2 separate regions of the Homo sapiens genome follow, and region 1 is linked to region 2. Evidence: fine-mapped expression QTL. Tissue or cell type: whole blood. Region 2 holds a variant in brackets; the other region holds the start of a gene. All regions are shown on one strand. Distances are between the middles of the regions.

Region 1 (2,910 bases), 55 kb after region 2:
GGCAACATGACAAGACCCCATTTCTTAAAAAAAAAAAAAAAAAAAAATTTTTTTTTCTTTTTTGAGACGGAGTTTCGCTCTTGTTGCCCAGGTTGGAGTATAGTGGCCGTGATCTCGCCTCACTGCAATCTCCATCTCCTGGGTTCAAGCGATTCTCCTGCCTCAGCCTCCCTAGTAGCTGGGATTGCAGGTGTGCCACCATGCCTGGCTAATTTTGTATTTTTAGTAGAGATGAGGTTTCACCATGTTGGCCAGGCTGGTCTCAACTTCCTGACCTCAGGTGATCCACCCGCATCGCTTACCAAAGAGCCAGGATTACAGGCGTGAGCCACTGCGCCCGGCCAAAATTTTAAAAAATCAGCTGAGTGTGGTGGTGCGCGTCTGTGGTCCCAGCTACTCGGGAGGCTGGGGCGGGAGGATTGCTTGAGCCCAGGGGTTGCAATGAGCTATGATTGCGCCACTGCACTTCAGCCTGGGTAACAGAGTGAGACTTTGTCTTTTAAAGAAAGGAGAAAATGGCTTGAACGGGCTAAGAACCTTGACCCCCAGGAGACTCCCTGCGCTGATAGAGCCTCTAGGGCTGGACTCCGCCTCCCAGGGAGCCGGGAGCATCTTGGGGAAGGGCCTGTCTCCATCTGTGTGTCCCGGTGGAAAAACGGTCACGGTGGGGAGTCACTGTCATTATTCATTGAACTCAAGCGCTCCTATTTTGGGTTTTCTCGTTCGGATTTCTGCGCGAGCGAGTGAGGAAGAACTGGACACCCGGGCGGTGCCCTGCGGCTCGGGGCGGGGCCAGCCGCGGTGGCGTGTCCGCAGCCACCTCAGCCCTCCTCCCGCCACATCCTCCAGGAAAGGCTGCTCAGGCCTTCCATTGAGGAGACAAGGACCCGCTGCTCTGGGGCCAGACACACGAGTAAGTCGTGACCCCCTGTGTGAAGGGATAAGGCGTCTACCCTGACGCGGGTGAGAACCCTCTTCACGGCAGACTCCGACGCCCAGTTATGAGAGCGTAGCGGCGCACCACCGCCGGGTCTCTCGGAGAGGGCGCGCCCGCTGGCCAGAGGACCAATCAGTGCACGGCAGGCTCGCAGGCCGCCCCCCCCCCCCCCCCCCAACCCAGGGACCACTCAGGCGCCGGCCGCTGGCGCTGCCTGCTCTTCGACTGGGCGAGCTTCCTGCCAATCAGGGCGGAACCAGCGCGGCGTCGGCCAGTAGCGGGAGGCGGTCGGGTCAGGCCCCAGCTGGGCGCGAGCGGGTCGGCGTTGAGGGAGCCACCGCCCTCCCGCCTGCGCACTGCCTCTCGCCCCCCTCCGGCCAGCCCGCAGCCGGCCGCGTCATGCCAGGCGCTGCTCGGCGGTAGGGAGTGCCCGGGGCCGCCGCCTCCGCCCGCCCGAAGCCGCGCCCACTGCCCAGAGCCAGAGGGATGGTGGTAGTCACGGGGCGGGAGCCAGACAGCCGTCGTCAGGACGGTGCCATGTCCAGCTCTGACGCCGAAGACGACTTTCTGGAGCCGGCCACGCCGACGGCCACGCAGGCGGGGCACGCGCTGCCCCTGCTGCCACAGGAGGTACCCGGGCGGGCGGCGGGCCGCGGGGCGTGGGGAGGGGCGCGGGGGAGAAGCGGGCGCGGGGCATAGCGGTCCTCGGCGGGTGGGCGGGGCCGGGGTTGGGGGCGGGGCCCGCGGACTTGCGCCCCTCCCCCGCCCACCTGCAACTCCCCCGCCCACCTGCACCCCTACCCACCCACCTTCAACCCCTGTCAATTACACCCACTAGGTGTGCTTCCCCACCCCCTACACCCTCCGCCCAGTAGTCACTGGGGTGATTTACTCCCATCGCCATGTCCCACTTTTACCGAAGACAGGAGGGAGGGTGGGCCGTGGGAGGGGGACCCTGGAGCCCCGAGAGCTGATGGTGTGTCTGACCAGGCACCGTAGCTCGAGCCTGTAATCCCAACACATTGGGAGGGAGGATCGCTTGAGGGCAGGAGTTGGAGGCCAGCCTGGGCAACATAGCGAGGCCCCGTCCCTACTACGACTGGAAAAACAAAGGCATTTTGGGTTGGATGAATAAAAAAAAGAAAAGAAAAAGATGTCTTCTAGAGAATCCAACAGGATGCTGTAGTGGTTGCCCACACCTAGTCTCCAGCTACCTAAGGAACAAGGCAAGGAGCTGTCTGCACATAAGGGGCAGGCCAGTTCATAGATGTAGGCACGGTCACCTGGCATCCCATGGCTTTCACTCACAGGCTGCTGTGCTCTGGTGCACAGGGGCTTCCACGGGTCTTACTTAATGTGTGTGATACTATCATGTCAACACCTGAAATGACACTCAAGAGACGGGAGAAGATACCAGGCATGGTGGCTCACATCTGTAATCTCAGCAGTTTGGGATGCTGAGGTGGGAGGATTGCTTGATCCCAGCAGTTAGAGACTAGTCAGGGCAACAGTGAGACCCTGCCTCTACAAAAATGAAAATTAGCCAGGCTTGGTGGTGTGTGCCTGTAGTCCCAGGTGCTCAGGAAGGTGAGTTGGGAGGATTGCTTGAGCCCTGGAGGTTGAGGCTGCAGTGAGCTGTAATTGTGCCACTGTACTCCAGCCTGGGTGTGATAGAGTAAGACCGTACCTACAAACAAACAAAAACAAAAAAAGCAAGAGAAGGGAAACGATGCCAGGTGTGGTGGCTTACACTTGTAATCCCAGCACTTTGGGAGGTCAAGGCAGGAGGATGGTTTGAGGCCAGGAGTCTGGGACCAGCTTGGGCAACACAGACTCCATCTCTACAAATAAAAAATAAAGAGGAGGGAAGGTGAAGCATTACTGGACACCGAAGATGGCTTCTAGGAGGCAGGGACTAAGGTAGTGCCAGATCCAGGAGCATGTGGTATGCGGAGTCCCAGGACAATGGAGGC
Region 2 (2,910 bases):
TGTCACCCAGGCTGAGACTACAGGCACATGCCACTGTGCCTGGATAATTTTTTTATTTTTTGTAGAAACGGGGTTTCACCATGTTGCCCTGGCTGGTCTCAAACTCCGGAGCTCAGGTGATCCACCCGTCGTGGCCTCCCAAAGTGCTGAGATTATAGGTGTAAGCCACCACACCTGGTATCCATGTCTTAAAGAGAAGTATGTTTTTGGTTATATGCAATATTTCCTTTTATTTCCTTACAATAAACCAAAAGAAAACAGCAAAAGTCACAAAACCTAGAGGACTGGCAAGGATCTTAAGGGATAAAAACTGTCTTATTATTCATTCCCCTGCCTCCAGGGGAGAAGATCTCATTACAATTACCCCAGGGTAAGAACTGGGGAGCAAGTGAGGGGGCTCCCAGAGAACAGGTTTTCTGACAGCATCAGTGTTGGTTCCCAGTCTCCCTCATTATTTCACATTCACTGCATAACTCAACATAAATTTTCAAAGACCGAGTACCAACATAAATTTTCAGAGACCAAGGCCTAACAACAGAGATTCTTTCTTGCTTCATATTGGGCCACTTCAACTGGGTTGTCTGCTCAATGGTAGAACAACTGTGACTTAAGTGACAATCCTCTTGATGGTTATATGGCATTTTAAGAAGCCGAGTGAATATGATCACCTACATACAAATCCATGCACTGGAAAATAGCTACTATGGCTCACTTTCATCCCTCCAGGAGCCCAATGTGGGCCTTTTCCTATATGTTCTCAATACAATTCCTCATGACACAAGCTGTCTCTCAAATAAGCTCTCAGGCAGAAAATCTCTCAGATGACCTTCAAGGCTAGAAATTGCCATTTCTGACAAGCTATGAACAATGAGGGTATGATACTACAGAACAAACCAGGATCCACAAATAAAAGGCGCAAAAACCAAATCATCCAAAGAGATAGTCATTTGGATGGGGATGAATTTCATAAACAAAACTACCTATTTCAATTCTCTTTATTCCTCCTATAAAGTAAACAAATTTCTCTAAAACACAATATCTTTCAACCAAAGAGAGTATTGGTTTCATATACTGTCTGACCCTCAAACCCAATTTCAGTGTCAAATCTGAGCTGATGTTCTCAAAAAGTTGACAGAAATTACAAAGCTGAGCCTATGAGCATTGGGGATCTCCTCTGTGTCTCACTCAGGCAGAGAAGAAAAAAAAGAGTATCA[C/G]AACATTACCCTTCTTTGATCCGACCCTGGAAGACGTACTGAAGATTTCTTCACTGTGGTAACCTTGCGGGTCTTCTTGTTGGTTTTCTTTCCTTCAAACTTGGAGAATGTGAGGGATTGGGCCCCTTGGCTGCTCTGACTGCTGGCAAAGGCCTCTTCTTCCTCCCGCTGGAGTCTGCAATTCAAGAGAGGATTAGAATGATCTAGATATTCTCCAAGATTTCTCTATACCTGAAGGTTATTACTCCATTAATTCAGGAGGATCTAAAGATTTTAGACCTAGAGACTAAATATGCCAAATCAGTCTGAGGTCTCACATAGCTACAGGATGGACGGCTCTTCATGCACTACAGATTTCAAATGGGATCCTCTCATGCTCATTCAGCAACTGCTCTAGGTTACATGAAAGAAATCAAGTCTAGTCCTTTTCCCCAACAAGCTCAGTGAAATAAATAAAGTCTAGTCCTTTTCCCTAACAAGCTCAAGGCTGGAACAGACGAAAAGGTAAGTAAACAACTGCTACAGAATGGGACAGCTGCTACATCAGAGAGTAAAAGTTGAGTGCTGTGAGAACACAGGAAAGAACAACGCAATCTGCTGGGGGGAGCTGATAAGGCTTTACAACGGTGATGTTTGGGTGGGGTCTTAAAGGATAAATAGGATCCTTTTTTTTGTTGTTTTTTATTGAGACAGAGTGTCACTCCATCACCCAGGCTGGGGTGCAATAGTACGATTTCAGCTCACTACAACCTCTGCCTCCCGAGTTCAAGCAATTTTCATCCCTCAGCCTTCCAAGTTATTGAGACTATAGGTGCACACCACCACGTCTGAGTAATAAGGCTGACTAGGATTCTAAGTGAAAGGACATTCCAGGAAGAAGGAACTACAAATGTGCAAGCCTGTGGTTTGCTTCACAACAAGCTGAATGTAGCCAGAGCACTGGGCGTGTGATGAACTGTGATGCTGGATACACAGGAAGGCTCCAGAGGGTAGGGAATCTTGATTGCTGAGCCCACTATTCTGGATTTCATCATGTGGTGGGGAAGCAAGAAAGACTGTAAATCCAAGAAGTTATCGTTGTCAGATCGTTGTATGTACTTTAGAAAGATCATGCAGGTAGCTGTGTGAACAACTTGAAGGGTAGAGAAACTAGAGACAGGAACAAGAAGTAAGAGTATATTATAAAGGTTTAAGTAAAAGAAAATAAGCACCTGGAAAATAGGAGTACAAAAGGTAAAATTCAAGACTTTTCTGAGTTGGAAGAAACAGAACTTGGTCAAGTTGTAGGCAGCATAGGAGATGAAAGAGAAATCAAGAATGAAACCAAGGTTTTTTAGCTAACTTGGTAAATAGTGATGCCATTAATTGACTCAGGAGAAGGGTTAGGAGGAAAATGTTCAGAATGCGGAGAATAATAAATAAAAGCAATAAATTTGGGTTTGGATTAGCTGCATGTGAACCATCTGTAATAATTCCCAAACACAGGCGGGGTACAGTAGCTCACGCCTGTAATCCCAGCACACTGGGAGGCCAAGGCAGCCGGATCACTTGAGCTCAGGAATTTGAGACCAGCCTGGGAAACATGGTGAAACCCTGTCTCTACATAAAATACAAAAATTAGCTGGGCGTGGTAGCATGCTCATGTAGTCCTAGCTACTTGGGAGGCTGAAGCAGAGGGATCACTTGAGCCCAGGAA

Evidence for each region.
Region 1: it holds the start of KCTD7, and the variant in region 2 is fine-mapped to the expression of KCTD7 in whole blood (TOPMed, PIP above 0.99).

Annotation. Positions count from the first base shown.
Region 1 is chr7:66,627,642-66,630,551 of GRCh38, forward strand. It overlaps KCTD7 (potassium channel tetramerization domain containing 7), which reads left to right and starts at 1,240. Exons shown (of 4, transcript NM_153033.5): 1 at 1,240-1,567. The coding sequence starts at 1,424. RefSeq lists silencers at 1-20, 1,031-1,600.
Region 2 is chr7:66,572,162-66,575,071 of GRCh38, forward strand. It overlaps the pseudogene RABGEF1P1. Among named protein-coding and RNA genes, the nearest start is that of KCTD7, 55 kb to the right of the region's middle. The variant C/G (reference allele first, on the strand shown) is at 1,215.